Linked DNA regions of Homo sapiens: region 2 is linked to region 1. The links come from fine-mapping of genetic effects on gene expression. Tissue or cell type: nasal epithelium. Region 1 holds a variant in brackets; the other region holds the start of a gene. All regions are shown on one strand. Distances are from middle to middle.

Evidence for each region. PIP is the estimated chance that this variant, and not a neighbour inherited with it, causes the effect.
Region 2: it holds the start of TSPAN9, and the variant in region 1 is fine-mapped to the expression of TSPAN9 in nasal epithelium (TOPMed, PIP 0.90).

What each region holds. Positions count from the first base shown.
Region 1 is chr12:3,114,679-3,122,853 of GRCh38, forward strand. All of the region lies in intron 2 of TSPAN9 (tetraspanin 9), which reads left to right. Among named protein-coding and RNA genes, the nearest start is that of TSPAN9-IT1, 31 kb to the right of the region's middle. The variant G/A (reference allele first, on the strand shown) is at 3,659.
Region 2 is chr12:3,073,388-3,081,562 of GRCh38, forward strand. It overlaps TSPAN9 (tetraspanin 9), which reads left to right and starts at 3,992. Exons shown (of 9, transcript NM_006675.5): 1 at 3,992-4,066. RefSeq lists an enhancer at 56-350 and silencers at 132-281, 3,498-3,547, 3,598-4,097.

The DNA.
Region 1 (8,175 bases):
CTAAAAATACAAAGATTAGCCAGGCATGATGGTGGGTGCCTATAAGCCCAGCTACTCCTGAGGCTGAGGCAGGAGAATCGCTTGAACCCAGGAGGTGGAGGTTGCAGTGAACCGAGGTTGCGCCATTGCATTCCAGCCTGGGTGACAGAGTGAGGCTCCATCTCAAAAAAAAAAAAAAAAAAAGATTCCCTGTAATCTGATAACATTAAGGAAGAAGGCCAACAGGTTTGTTTTATTGAGATGTTACTCACATACCATAGAGTTTGTCTATCTGAAGAGGACAGTTCAGTGGTTTTTACTATATTCTCAGCGTGTGACCATCAGCACTGTCAATTTTAGAACCTTTTTATCACCCCCAAAAGAAACTCCATTAGCAATCACTCCCATGCCCCCCTTCCCTGCCCCCAGTTTTTCTCCCTGTCTGAGTCAACCATTAATGTATCTTTTGTCTCCATGATTTACCTACCCTGGACATTCATATGAATGGAATTATACAATATGTGGTCTTCTGTGACTGACTTCTTCCACTTAGCATAAGGTTTTCAGGGTTCATCTGTGTTGTAGCACGTGTCAGAATTCCATTCCTTTTTAGGGCTCAGTAATATTCCAGCATACGGACAGACCACATTTTGTTTATCTGTACCCATTCGTCATTGACTGACTTGTGAGTTATTACCACCTTTTCTGGCTTAGACATAATGTGGCTGTGAAGTTCATGTGCCATGCTTTTGTGTGGCCATATGTTTTCAGTTCTCTTGGGCAAATACCTGGGAGTGGAATTGCAGGTGGTCTTAGCTCAGGCTGCTGTATATCACAAAGTCCCACAGACTGGGTGGCTTATAAACAATAGGCATTTATTTATCCCAGTTCTGGAGGCTGGGGGTCCCAGATCGGGGTGCCAGCATGGTCAGGTGCTGGTGAAGCCCTCTTCTGGGTTCTAAACTTATATCCTTATGCAGTGGAAACAGGGCAAGAGAGCTCTCTGAGGTCCCTTTTAATTAGGGCACAATCCCATTCCTGAAGTCTCCATCTTCATGACCTAATCACCTCCCAAAGGCCCCACCTGCTAATACCATCACCTTGGGGCCCAGGATTTCAACATGAGAATATTTTGGGGACACAAATATTCAGTCTGTAGCACTGGGTCATACGATAACTGTGTGTTGAACTGTTTAAAGACTTCCAGACTGTTTTCCAAAGCAGCTGTACCGTTTTACATTCCCACTAGAAGTGTGTGAGGACTCCAGTTTCTCCACATCCTTGCAGACAACCTTTATTTTTATTTTTTTAACAACCCTTTTTACTGTCTGTCTTTTTGACTGGCTAACTACTTCTTAAGCGGACACATTTCTGATTGCAAGACAGTGGGCTGAACTTGATCATTTAGATAAAAGTTTCGCTATTTTCTTTTGTAAAAGCAATGTATGTTTATTGAGCATTCTGGGAAAACAACTTGATCCCTGCTAGTGATGTCCCTGTTGCATTTGATCACAGCCTGCCAACTCTTTAACAGGTCTCTCAAGACCAAGGCTGCTGCCCCTATAAGCTGCATAGCAGATCAGGATGCAGGCCCTGGGGCTTCAGACTGGGGTTCACAAACAAGTTCTGCTGCTGCCTGGACATTTGACCTTAGCAAGCTGCGAATCCTCTCTGAGTCACAGTTTTCTCATTGGTAAAAGGGATGTTTTTGGGTACCTACCATGTGATGACAGGCATCGTACTTGTCTTACTAGGTTCTGATGAAGATGAAACACGGCAATGCTTGTGAAGTGCTGGGGATAATGCACTTCCTGAGCACTTAGAATAAACGATACTCAAAACCGAGAAAGAGCCCTCCGTCCTGAGGTCACGCAGCTCGGCAGGGCTTGTGATTGTTGTAAGGTAAAGAGAGGCCCTTGGAGGAGGAAGGGTCCCCGTAGGTCACCCTCACACTGGATTCCCGTCATGTGGCCAGCATTTGCTTGGCTGTTTCTGCTGATGAGAACTGCCCCCTGCTGCTGCACAGCTCAGGTTTTCAGCCCTGCCTTTCCGGAGCCATCCTTTGGCCGTGCCTCTGCCGTCAGAGCCCGGGAGCGCGCGCCTGCCCTGTCGTCCGCATGACAACCTGGGAGTATTTGACAACAGAACCCCTCTGTCTCTTCTCCAGTTCCATCAGCTGTTTCTCAGATAACTTCATTTCTAAACCCCACTACCTCTGTGGCCGCCCTTGGACGCATTCTGGCTTGGTGGTTGTTTGTTGTTTCCTGGACTCATCCTCAGCCCGAGGTGGCTCTGAGGGGTAGAGGGACATCCCCATAGGGGACAGACACAAACTGAGTGTCAGAAGAGTTATTAAGCCTTTCAGGGTGACAGATCTTCACCTTTACAAGCAGGATGGCTTTAGGAAAGGAAGTAGTCGAGCAGGATAGATAGTCTCATTCTAAATTATGGAAAACATAAAATTCCAGCTAAGGCCTGTCCCCATTTCCCCTCCTGTTTTCCAGGCTGTCTTGGGTGGCTGCACAGACGGTTCCTCGTCATCCAGGTTTCCTGATGGGTGTTGCAAGGGTGACCCATTCTGCTGGAAGGGCTTGTGATGGGAGGGTTTTGAGTTTTCCTGCCGTCATTTCCTATCCTGATAGGGCAGAGTCGGTGGTACATTTTTTGGACTCTGTTTTATAAGCTGCAGGAGGGAGATTGTGGCGAGTGGCTCATTAATAAAAGCACTTCAGCAGAAACAGAACAAGGGGAGGGGAGAGGAAGTGGTGGGACTATTTGCCCGATTTTTGTATCCTAGGGCCTGTCTCTTCCGTTGGTGGGAGAAATCCAAGTGCTTAGCGGTCCCTCTGCTGCTGCCCGTGGGGTAAAAACCTCATCATTTTGTAAAGAGGGGCAGCCTGGAAACCCACCGTGGGCCCAGCTCTGCCCCGGGGCAGGCAGCACACATTCTGGGTATCTCCCACTTCCTCAGGCTGAGTTTTGGAAAGGCCATCCCTAATTTCTTTGTAATTGTGCTCCAGGCTGATTTACATAACTTTATTTTTCTGTGGTTAGTTACTCATTCAGAAATTCTCCTGTCCATCTGTTCTTCTGGGAACCTGAGACTATGGGAACAGCACATCCCAGGAGAATTCTGGCCTGATTTAGGGGGTTGGAGCAGTTGTCCAATCCCCTGAGCAGATCCAGGTCCCGGACCCCTCCAGCGAGAGGAAGCACCTTGGGAGGCAGTGGCTGCTGGTCCTGGGACCTGCGGAGCTGTCACCTCAGGGCTGGGAGGTGAAGGGAATGGCCTGAAGGTGGAGGAGGCATGTGTGGTAAGAGGCAGTGCAGGGAGGTGGTTAGTGCCCCATGCCAGGTTCCCCTCCTGGGCCTGCCACTCTCCAGTTATGTGACATGGGAAGCTATTTAAGACTCTTTTTCTCGCCTGTGAAGTGGGGATTATAAAGGCTCTAGTTCACAAGGTTATTCAAATGTGAAGTGAGTTGATACGTGAAGCATGTAGAACCCCCCCGGCATGTAGAAAATCCTCATCCTCATTTCCAGCACTAACAGCTGCATTATCACATTTACCTGATTCCGCACCGCCCCTGCACCCGCCGTTTTTTTTTTTTTTTTTTTTTTTTGAGATGGAGTCTTGCTCTGTTGCCCAGGCTGGAGTGCAGTGGCATGATCCTGGCTC[G/A]TGCAACCTCTGCCTCCTGGATTCAAGTGATTCTCCTGCCTCCGCCTCCCGAGTAGCTGGGATGACAGGCACCCACCATCATGCCCGGCTAATTTTTGTATTTTTGTAGAGACGGGGTTTTACCATGTTGGCCAAGCTGGTCTCGAACCCCTGACCTCAGATGATCCGACCGCCTTGGCCTCCCAAAGTGTTGGGATTACAGGCATGAGCCACCGCTCCTGGCCAGACCCCTCTCTGCTCTTTTTTTTAATGGAACAGGGATACTTATTTTATATTTATTGACAAACATGGGGAAACATTCCTCTCAGCTCAGCCCCACTGCACCTGCAGCCCTTGGCCTCCTTGGCACTCCCTCCCTGCAGCTGTGCCCAGTGGGTCTCTCCCACTCCCAGCCATGGTGTGAATTGGGCTTATGCTGACTGCCAGGTAGCAGCAGCCTAATTTCTCTGCCTAGTTTCATCATCTGTGACCTGTGGAAAACATTTACGCCTCCTTTTCTTCCCTCCGGCCCCTCCAGAGATGTGATGAGGGTCAGGTGACATGTTAAGCCTGGCACGCAGGTTGCAAAGACAGGCAGGACTTCGGTGGACAGTGTGGGAGAGCTGTGGGCGCAGGACCGAGATCGCCCTGTCCACAGGGACCCTGGAGTATGGATGGAGTAGGGTGAAAATGGAGCTTAGCACCGCCTTTGGGACACTATCAGCAGATGCAACCCCTTGGGCTGTACCCCCGACAGCGAAGGTAGGGGAATGTTGTTTAGAAAGTCAGTCCACAAATGGGTATTCTCCAAGCTGGTTCCCTGACCCCACACTGGACAAGCTGCTATGCTCTCTGCCCTCAGGATGCTTATAAAGTGGCCAAGGGTGGATAAGATACCAGGAGGGAAGTCTCAGTGGTTTGAATAACCAGCAGTTCCTGCTTTACCTTTGATGCATCAGGTGCTGCACTAGACATCTACTTATAGGTGAGAAAAACAAGGCTCGGGGGGTTCACTGACTCCCCAGGGTCATCCAGTTTGGATGCCAGAAAAGGGATGTAAACTCAAATCTGGGGCATTCCAAAGTCCGTGTTCTTTCCAGGTGGGGAAACTTGGGTCTGAGCTTCGCCAGGCCTGCTGGGACTCCCAGATCAGCCCCTGCCTTCCAGGAGCTCCGTTGTGAAATGCCCTTGCCCGTGTGATGTTTGTGTGTGCTTTTTTCTGCAGGAAGTCTTGGCCTTCTCTCCCTCCCCATCCTCTCAGCCCGTCCTGCCCCTGCCCGGAGGGCTGTGTGCTTCACTGGAGGGCCTCTCTGCTGTGAATGCACCCCCGCTCCTCTCCACTGACCACATCCTGTGCACCCCGCTTCTCCCTTCTTTCAGGTCACCTCCTTTGATTTGGGGAAGGGAGTGAGCCATTGGCAGGTGAGAGAAACCTGTGCTGAAAGGTGTGGGTGACTTTGGGCTTTTGCTCCTGTGGGGAGGTGTTGGCTCTTCCCAGGTGAGAATATGCCCTAGCCCAGGTTGGGCTAGGGCAGGAGGGGAAGTACGGTGCCCTGTCACTCAAAGGGCACGGGCCTGGCCGCCAGCGCCCCGGAGTCTGGTGTTGCTCCACATGGGCTGGCTGTGTGACCATGTGCACGTCACTCTGCTTTCTGGGCCTGGGTGCCTCTCTGTAGCGCAAGGAGTTCGTGCCAGATGATCCTGGAGGTCCTTTCAGCCCAGCAGTTCCGCGGTTTCAGATGCCTGCTTGGGAAATTCATTGCCCACTCGTTCCCTCTTCCTTTCCTCTGTTGCCTCTTTAAAATGAAGGTTTACTTTTCAGCTGGTGTTAATTGGAAAGCTTTAATGTATGCTTTGGAATGAGTGGGAGGAATTCCAAGGCCATAACTCCCTGAGCCCTCAAGCGTGGAAAGTTTTTTAGTAAGAACGAGTTCGAACAGGATCTTGGGGGCCTGGGGACAGGACACAACCTTGGCGTGCTCATTCACCTCAGGGAACACAGCTGGCTCTTTGGAACCTGGCTGATTAAACCTGGCAGGACCTGGGTGACAGAAACCCAGCAGGGCCAGAGCTCCTCTGTCTGGGGACCCTTGTGCCACCAGCAGCCACAGCCTTCCCCTGGAGCCTGCTCTCCCCACTCCTGTGCCAGCCCGTCACTCTCTCTTCCCCAGCTGTGCCAGCCCTCACTCTGGCCCTGCCCCAAATACACGTCATGTCCCTCTGGCTTGCCTTCTTTAGCTCAGCCCTTCCCTGTCCCCTCCTCATCTCTCTACCTATTGATGTCACCTCTTTCCTTTTATGCCCAGCGTTTCCTTTCCACTAGCCCAGGTTGGGCTAGGGCAGGAAGTTGAGCTTGGCACGGGCCTGGGCCAGGGACCACATACAGTGTAAACTGGACTGTGGGGCTGGGAGGGCTAGGGGAGCATTGCCGCTGATCAGTCAGTCAGTTAATGTTGACCAAGCCCCCATCACCTGCCCGAGGTGAGGCCGAGCTCTTCCAGTGAATGAAAAAGATGTACACACAGCACTTCCCTTGGGGGAGCTACCCATAATGGGGTAGACCAGCCCCCAGGAGGGACCCTTACGGAGTGGTGGGTGATAAACTGCTTCTGTAAGTCAGAGAGGCGGCTTGGGCCTTCAGAACTCAGGTGGGAGTCAGTAGGCCTGGGTCCAGCCTGCCACTGGCCACTGGCTCCTTTGCAGGTTGTGGCTCAGTCACAGGACCTGTCTGAGTTTCATCTTGTGGAATGAGAAGGTTGGGGTGGGTCTTCCTGAAGTCCCTTCCAACTCTGCATAGTTAATAGTCACCATTTATCAAGTGCTTTCTGTGTGTCAGGCGGTGTGAAATGCTTGACAGACCTAATCCCATCTCATTCTCCCAGAGCGAGGCTCTTTTATTTGCCCTCATTTTGCAGATCTCAGGCTTAGAGCTGAGGTTGCAATCCAGTGGCCTCTAGGTCTGATCCAGGCCACAGATGCGTTTTGTTTGGGCGCAGCTGACATACTGGAGAGATTTTTCAAAACAGGGGATGTTGGCTTTTTTTTTTTTTTTTTTTTTTTTTGAGACAGGTTCTTGCTCTGTTGCCCAGGCCAGAGTGCAGTGGTGTGATCACAGCTCATTACAGCCTCGACCTCCCAAACTCAAGTGATCCTCCCACCTCAGCCTCCTGAGTAGCTGGGACCACAGGCACATGCCACCATATCTGGCTAATTAAAACTTTTTTTTTTTTTTTTTTTTTTTTTGTAGAGACAAGGCCTCACTATGTTTTCCAGGCTGGTCTCAAACTCCTGAGCTCAAGTGATCCTCCTGCCTTGGCCTCCCAAAGTGCTAGGGTTATAGATATGAGCCACTGCACCTGGCTGATGTTGGCTTTTTAAAGTTGGAAGGTCTAGTTACACTGAGCCTGTGCTGCCCGGTGGCAACAATTGGCTGGATCTGGCTCTCAGGCACCACCTCCACATGGGGCTGTGCTTTCCTGACCCCTCAGTCTTGACACAGTACTGGGACTTGCCCTTGTACACAGTAACTTCATGAATTTATGTTTTCCACCTTGTAGGTACTTGAGTTTGCAAACCTTGACTGAAGGCTGTGATGTTATACTGTATCAGTCACACAGCTACTGTTAGGGACAGTGTTCCAGCTTGAGTCTGTCTGACTTTAAACTGTGAACCATCCTGCTGTTTTTCTGAGTTCTCCCCTCCCCTCCCCTCGTTTTTTGTCTTAAAAAGAGATAGAGTTGGCCGGGCGCGTGGCTCACGCCTGTAATCCCAGCACTTTGGGAGGCCGAGGCAGGCAGATCACGAGGTCAGGAGATCGAGACCATCCTAGCTAACACAGTGAAACCCCATTTCTACTAAAAATACAAAAATTAGCCGGGTGTGGTGGTGGGTGCCTGTAGTCCTAGCTACTCAGGAGGCTGAGGCAGGAGAATGGCGTGAACCCGGGAGGTGGAGCTTGCAGTGAGCCTGCACTCCAGCCTGGGCGACAGAGTGAGACTCTATCTCAAAAAAAAAAAGGAGATAGAGTCTTGCTCTGTCACCCAGGCTGGTGTGCAGTAGCACAATCATAGCTCACTGCAGCGTTGATCGGCTGAGTAGCTAGGACTTCAGGCACACACCACCATGCTTGGCAAATTAAAATTTTTTTTGTTTGTATGTTGTCCAGGCTGGTCTCAAACTGGTCTCCTTCTGTCTTGGCCTCCTAAAGTGCTGGGATTACAGGTGTGAGATACCACACCTGGCCCTGAGTTATTTCTAAATCCTAGCAGGGATTTTGAATCTTTTGTCTGAGCCTAGGAGACCATAGATAAGGAAGTTGGCAAGAACCCCTCTTAACAGAGAGGTTTGAGTCCCCGCATCTGTCTGAATGTGCTCCTGCAGGGAGGTGGCGTCCACTTTTGGATGTTGCTCATGTTTTAGTCCAGAGAAAAACTGTCCTCTTGCTACACAGTATGTCCTTTCTGAATTAATTAAATGTCATTGTTTTTTCTCTACCACTTGTTTTCCTACACCTTGGTTTCTATTTACTGGCAGGTTGA
Region 2 (8,175 bases), 41 kb before region 1:
ATGTCGGGATGGTGATGCTACTACCTACCTCATGGTGTTGTTGTGAGGATCAGTGGGTTAGAACATGTAAAGTACTTAGAACTGTGCCTGGCACATAAACAGTACATGTTAGCTGTTAGCTGCTTTGCAAGTCACTTGAAACCTATGGCCGAATGTGAAGTGTTGGCGGAACCCCGCTCCGGCAGCGTGCACTTTCGCCACTAGGTGTCGCAATTCAGCAGGCACAGTCCTGAAGCTTGACTTGGGGTGGTTGGCTGGGACTTTAATTTTAGCCTATTGTCATTTTTGATTTGATTTGGTGATTTCAAGGGGATAAACTGACATGCTATCCTTTGAAGTCCCTGGGGATCCAGAAATTCCAGCAGAGTTGCTGACATCCAGGCCTGGAAGGAGCTGTTTGGAGTCCTGCCTTTGTTCACAGTTAAAATGGCATATAATTTATCATCCACGCCAGGATATTTCGAGAGTGAAAGGGGACTTAGGAACTATGCCAGGACAAGAGGAGTAAGTAGGATGTGCCCCCGAAACCTGGATACAGTCACCCTACCTATATCTAACCTCAGCATTTTTCAGAATCTCCTCCAGAAGGGAAATGCAATGACATTTCCTCAGAAGCCTGGTATGATAAGCAGTGACTTCATGCGTTTGTAAGTCCCTTCCCCAAGAGGGTGGTGCGTCATTGTCAGGTTTACTTGCGTTTAGTCCTCAGTGGACACTATCAGTGTGTCTGCTTCACAGACCACTAGTCACCTTTGTGTCCTTTATGCTGAATAATCCCATCTCCTCTACAGCTTTTCTTCAGAGCTTCCTTCCAACTGTCAGCCCCTCAGAGGCACTGAGGCATTCACCTCTGAATGTGGTGAAGGAGAGTGAGCAGTGAAGCCATTTTCTGGGCTATTGCTGAGGGATTTCTTCTAAGATTTCATCTATCTCTAAGACTTCAGAATTCCATTATTTCAGATTTGCTCTAATTAATTAATTAATTTGAGACAGAGTCTCACTCTGTCACCCAGGCTGGAGAGCAGTGGTATAATCATGGTTCACTGCAGCCTTGACCTCCTGGGCTCAAGCAATCCTCTCACCTCAGCCTCCCGTACAGGCATGTGCCACCACGCCCATGCACACCTGGCTAATTTTTGTATTTTTAGTAGAGATGGGGTTTTGCCATGTTGGCCAGGCTGGTCTCGAACTCCTGGGCTTGAGTGATCCACCTGCCTTGGCCTCCCAAAGTGCTGGGATGACAGGTGTGAGCCACTGTGCTCCGCCTATCTTTTTTTAAAGGGCAGGAGGACTTTGGGAGGCCAAGGTGGGAGGATTGCTTGAGGCCAGGAGTTCAAAACTAGCTTGAGCAACATAGTGAGGCCTCTGTCTCTACAAAACAAAACGAAAACGAAAACAAAAACAAAAACAAAACAAACAAAAACCCCAATTAGCTGGGTATGGTGGCATGCACGTGTGGTCCCAGCTACTTAGGAGTCTGAGGTTGGAGGATCCTTGAGTCCAGGAGTTGGAGGCTGCAGTGAGCCATGATGGCACCACTGCCCTCCAGCCTGGGTGGCAGAACAAGTCCCTGTCTCAAAAACAACAAAACAAAACAAAAACCAAAAAGGGCAGGAGGAAGCTAGCATTTGTAGAGCAGTCACCACACATCACATGTTGTGCTTTTACTCCATCATCTTGGTCAGCCCATCAACCCTGTGGAATTGGTTTTTTTTTTTTTTTTTTTTTGAGACAGTCTCGCTCTGTCGACCAGGCTGGAGTGCAGTGGCACGATCTTGGCTCACTGCAACCTCCGTCTCCCAGGCTCAAGCAATTCTCCTGCCTCAGCCCTCCGAGTAGCTGGGATTACAGGCATGTGCCACCACACCCGGCTAATTTTTGTATTTTTAGTGGAGACGGGGTTTCACCATGTTGGCCAGGCTGGTCTCAAACTCCTGATCTCAGGTAATCCACCCGCCTCGGCCTCCCTAAGTACTGGGATTACAGGTGTGAGCCACCATGCCCATCCCCATAATTGGTATTCTTATGCCCCATTCCACAGGTGAGAAAACAGGCCTGAAGAGGTCCCAGCCGATAAAAGCAGAGCCAGGATTCAGACAGGTGTGTCTGGCTCCCAAGCCCTGCGGCTACTCCCTCACCAGGCTGCGTCCAATGGTCTGCCAGTGAGTTGGCTTGCTGGCAGACAATCCTAGTATATCTCTTTCCCTGTCTGAGACCCAGTTTCCTTTTCTGGGTACATGTACCCAACTCTGCCGCAGTGACTGGAGAGATTGGGGCTGGTGGGGGTTCCTTGGGAAGACTTTGTTATAGGGGCATTGAACAGGGCTTTGGATGAAGCAAAATGTAGAAGGAGAATATTTTCCTTGTGGGGAAAGGGAGATCAGAAGGAAATGGGTTATGGGTTTAGTCTAATAGACAAAAACAAGGTTGCATGTGTGTGACGGAAAGGGGCCCAGAAGATGAGTGGAAACTTCCAGTCTAATTAGCAGAAAGCAAAAGTGACCCTAGTGATTATAGCCAGGTTTTAAAAACTTGTCCCCAGTCAAGCTTAGTGCAATGGTAGGGCACGTGGGAAGCACAGCATACAGTTTCTTTAAAATTTAAAAAAATTTCACTTTTAAAGACAGGGTCTCCCTCTACTGCCCAGGCTGGAGTACAGTGGCATGATCCTAGTTTACTGCAGCCTCCAACGCCTGAGCCTCAGCCTCCGGAGCAGCTGGGACTACAGGGGTGTGCCACCACACCCGGTTAATTAAAACATTTTTTTTTTGAGATGGGGTTTCCCTATGTTGCCCAGGCTGTTCTTGAATTCCTGAGTTCCTGAGCTCAAGCAATCCTTCCACCTGGGCCCCCCAAAGTCCTGGGATTACACGCGTGAGCCACCACACCTGGCCTAGAAGACATTTTTGATGACAGTAATGATGAGAAGAGATGGCGTTTTAGTGCTCTTTGGAAACAAGTTTAGGCCTTCTAGCTTTAAGAATCCGGGCCTATAATCCCAGCACTTTGGGAGGCAGAGGCAGGAGGATGGCTTGAGCCCGGGAGTTTGAGACCAGCTTGGGCCCAGGGAGACCACCGTCTGTACAAAAAAAATCAAAAACTTCGCCGGACGTGGTGGTGCGCGCCTACAGTCCCAACTACTCTGGAGGCTGAGGCGGGATCACTTGAGCCCGGGAAGTCGAGGCTGCAGTGAGCCGTGATCGCACCACTGCACTCCTGCCTGGGCAACAGAGTGAGTCCTTGTCTCAAGAAAAAACAAAACAAAACAAAAAGCAAAAAACACATAAAATCCAGGCCTGAAAAAGCGCCCGGGCCAGACATGCCTAGCTGGAGTTTCTCCTGCCTTAGCGCACCCCTCAGGCACACGGTGCCCTGTAGTCGCCCTTGGAGGCCGCCAGCTCCTGGGGAGGCATGGCCCTTTCTGCGGGAGGTGTCTCAGGCAGGCTCCAACACACACCCGCGCTGTCAGCATCTCGCACAGTCCGCCCGAAACACCAGGGAAGGGGTTCGTAGGTGTGGGGGTGGGGTGGCGAGGCCAGGCAGCCTGGCGCGAGGGAGAGAGCCGAGGCCTGGGCCAGGAAGGCCCTTGGGTGCCGTGTGGGCGCAGAGCCCAGGAGAGCGCACTGCCAGGCCCGGACCTCCCCGCCCCTACCCCGGGAAGAGGCCCGTTCGCCGCAGGGGGAAGGCGGGATCATAGCACCTCGGAGGAGCGGCCGGTCCGGGCATGCGGGCGGCGGGGCGGGGAGGGAGGCTTCCGGAACCCCGAGAGAGCACCCGTGCCTCGCGGGCCCCGTGCCCCGTCCCCGGGCTCCCCTTCCTCTAACGCAGGGGACCCAGCCCGGGGCAGTGCCGGGCACTGGCGCTGGCGCCCCGCTCAGCCCTGCGATCCTTCTCCGCCCCGCCCCTCCCCGCTCCGCCCCGCCCCTCCCCGCTCCGCCCCCGGGCCGCCCCGCCCCGCAGGCTCGCCATTCCCGGGCAGGCCCCGCCCCCTGTTTCCGCTGGCGGCGGCGGCGGCGGCGGTGCCGGAGCGCGAGCAGAGCGGAGACCCCCAGGTCCTGCGGGCGCGGTGAGTGCGGCCCGGGCGGCGGGCGGCGAGGCGGGTCTCGAGAGCGTGCGGAGTCGCGCGGCCTTGAGCCGGCGCCGGGCGGGCTGGGCACCCCCAGGCCGAGACCCGAGAAGGGGGAGCGGCCGGGGGCGCCCACGGGAGGCAGTGTGGGCAGGGCGGCGGTGGGACGAGAGGACGAGGAACAGAGTAGGCGCCGTGCGGGAAGCGGGCCGGGAAGGGGAGGGTGGGTGCGGGGCCCGGGCACCGAGCGAAGTGGGGTCCTCCAGGGGATGGCTCCGAGGAAGACCGTTTCAGAAAGGGAGTAACCCGGGGCCGGCAAGGGTTTCCGACTGTGTGACCCCGTGCACCGCTTGGGACAGTCCATACAAGGACCCCAGAGAGGGCCAGGGGGCCTTCGGGCAGGGCTGGGATATGGCCTGCAGCCCCCCGGCACCCGCGACCGCTCCCTGGGCCACTGCTGGAAGATCAGCACTCCGAGTGACAGGACTCTGGCACATCCCGAAGTTGGAGATCTAGCCCATCTGTGCATTCAAGTTTGGGACTTCAAAAAACTTTCTTGTGGTTTTTAAAAAAAGATCCAAACAAGAAACCGGCTTGTTGTTGTAAGAGCAATATTTGTACTTGTACATCTTGGAACTGGAGTCTTGGATCTCCTCCCTCTTTGAAAAATATACGAGTCACTGCTTCATCTTCCCCCAAATGCCTGTTTTGTCTGGGGAAGCTTGGGCTAGTATGGGATCCCCTGAGCTACCTTTTTCTCGCATCACCAAAACGGGGGGTAAGAAGGCAGGGGCTTACCTGCCTTACCTGGTAACTCTTAGTTCAGAGACCCAGTCTCTCATTATGTGCGCGTGCCCTTCTGACCTGCAGCTGTCCTTTTCCCTGGGGTGACTCAGGTATTTCCTCCTCCAGGAAGCTTTCCTGGACTAGTGGAGAAAACTGAAGACTCATGCGAGGATCCCTATATATACCTGCCAGCTCCCTTCTCTTTACTGAAAATAGCCACAGAGAATGTTGAATATATGCTTTGCTATAGAGATACGCAGCCAGCTTGCCATCATAAGTAATGGGGAGGGGAGGAGAGGGATTATGGATAATTTCAAACAATAGCCTGGACAAATCATTTATATTTAGCTAAGGAATGCAGCCAGAGAGGCAGACAATTACACCGGCTTCCTACCCTCGGCTTGGTCCTGGCATGGCTGATGCAGCTGGGCTGTGGGTTGGAGGGAGAGGATTGGGGTAGATAAAACTTGAAGTGTAATTCAGTTCTACTCTCACTCACTGAAGACGCCCTGTGTGCAAGTCCCTGAACAGGTGAGAGTAGGATTTTTTTTTTTTTGGTCTGGTTTAATCAGATTTTAATATTCTGGCAGAGCTTTTTAAACCTATGAACAGATATTTAATATTAATAACAATAACTAGTGTTGATAAAGTAATTTATAGTTGGCCAAGTTTTTTCTATGCACGTTACATTAGCTGTATATAATTTTATTTAATTCATACGTAATCTTGTGAAATTTGTTACTTTTTTTTTTTTTTTTGAGACAGAGTCTCACTCTGTTGCCCAGGCTGGAGTGCAGTGGCAGGATCTCAGCTCACTGCAACCCCCGCGTCCCAGGTTCAAGCCATTCTCCTGCCTCAGCCTCCCGAGTAGCTGGGATTACAGGCGCGTGCCGCCACGCCTTCTAATTTTTGTATTTTTAGTAGAGATGAGGTTTTGCCATGTTGACCAGGCTGGTCTTGAACTCCTGACCTCAAGTGATCCACCTGCCTTGGCCTCCCACAGTGCTGGGATTATAGGCGTGAGCCACCGCATTGGCTGAAGTTTGTTACTTTTAATTGCCTTCTTATAGGTTAAGAAAATGATACTCAGAGAGAATAAGTATCTTATCTAAGGTCACAACACTCATTAAGTGAAAGAAGCAAAACTTGAACCCTGGCTTCTGACCTTCCTGCCTTGTGCCATCTATTCTGCCATCTGCCTCTCTGCCCTTCTTCTATTTTATTTATTTATTTTTTTCTGAGACAGACTTTTGCTTTTGTTGCCCAGGCTGGAGTGCGATGGCACTATCTCGGCTCACTGCAACCTCTGCCTACTGGGTTCAAGTGATTCTCCTGCCTCAACCTCCCAAGTAACTGGGATTACAGGTGCCCGCCACCACACCTGGCTAATTTTTGTATTTTTAGTAGAGATGGAGTTTCGCCATGTTGGCCAGACTGGTCTCAAACTCCTGACCTCAGGTGATCCGCCTGCCTTGGCCTCCCAAAGTGCTGGGATTACAGGCATGAACCACCGTACTTAGCCCCTTCTTCTATTTTTTTTTTTTTTTTTTAGAGACAGGGTCTTGCTTTGTTGCCTGGGCTGGAGCACAGGGACACAAGCAGCTCACTGCAGCCTCCAACTCCTGGGCTCAAGTGATCCTCCCACCTTAGCCTCCCGAGTAGCTGGGACTATAGGTACAGGCCCCATGCTCAGATAATTAAAAAAATTTTTTTTTTTTTTTTGGTAGAGACAGGGTTGTGCTATGTTGCCCAGGCTGGTCTCTGGTCTTGAACTCCTGGCCTCAAGCAATTCTCCTACCTTGGCCTCCCAAAGTGTTGGGATTACAGGCGTGAGCCACCACGCCCAGCCCCTTTCCTCTATGTTGAGCCTTGTCTTCACCTGGCACCACCTATTTGTGCAACCTTGGGCAATTTACCTCCTCTTTCCAACTCTCTGTTTTGGTGGTATATTGGATTAGAAATATTCTAGAGTCTCTTCCAGCATCAGATAATTAACAGTGTAAGATATTGGCAGCCACTCAATCAATTAGGAAGTGTGCTTTATATAAAAAATTCTAAAATTGTGGTTAAAAAAACACTGAATGTAAAATCTTTTTTTTGTTGTTGTTGTTTTTGAGATGGAGTCTCACTCTGTCGCCCAGGCTGGAGTGCAGTGGCATAATCACAGCTCACTGCAACCTCCGCCTCCCGGGTTCAAGCAATTCTCTGCCTCAGCCTCCCCAGTAGCTGGGACTACAGGCGCCCGCCATCACCCTCGGCTAAATTTTGTATTTTTTTTAGTAGAGACGGGGTTTCACCATGTTGGCCAGGCTGGTCTTGAACTCCTGACCTCATGATCCACCCTCCTCGGCCCCAAAAAGTGCTGGGATTACAAGCATGAGCCACCGCGCCTGGCAAATGTAAAATCTTAAGTGTACATTTTAACCATTCTTAAATGTACAGTTCAGTAGCATTAAGTCTATTTACATTGTTGTGCGACAGCTCCAGAAATTACCTTGTAAAACTGAAGCTTTAATATTCTTGAAACAACTGTTTCCCCCTCCTCCCAGCCTCTGGCAGCCACTATTCTGTCTGTTTAGTGTGCTTTATTAAGCTCCTGCTGTGTGCTTAGTAAATGCTGACCTTGAGGAATTAATCGGGAGAGTTGTGGAGAAGCAGCCCAGCTTAGGTGGGAAGCCCTTGAACCTGGGGTGGCTGGAGGGAGTGCCCCCTTTTCGCAGGCCTGTAACCCCAGGGCCAGCCAGCACTGTTAAGTGAATGAGTGAGTGGGTTGGGACTTGGGCGGATGCCTTCACCTCCTTTAGTCTCAGCTCCTTGCTTGCAAAATGAGGATAACAATACCAAGTACTCAGGGTGTTGGGAAGGAGCCATGAGCTGATGTATGTGAGGCACGTAGCTCAGGGCCTCATATACAGCAGGTGTGCAGTAAACGGTGGCTGTTATTTATAACCTCGTGGAGGAGACTGGACTAAGATGCTTGGAACAAGAGAGGACAAGACTTCTTTTCTCTGCCGTGAGGGCCCAGCCTGCAGTGGTTGTCATCCTCACTGACTAAGAGGGAGTGGATCTAATCCCGGTGCATTCGCCTGGCATTCAGCATCCTGCCTGTCTAGCCTTATCGCCACTCTCCTCCCTCCTGGAACCCTTGGTTCTAGCCAGACTTATCTCCCAAGCATGCTTTGCGCGTTCCTTCTTGGCCCCTTAGTTCATCCTCTTCCACCTTCCTGGTTGGTTCTTCCATCCCTCTCCTCTTTCAAGACCTTTCTCATGTCTGAGCTCCTCTCAAGACCCTGGCATCCCATCCCAAATGAACCTCTTTTTCC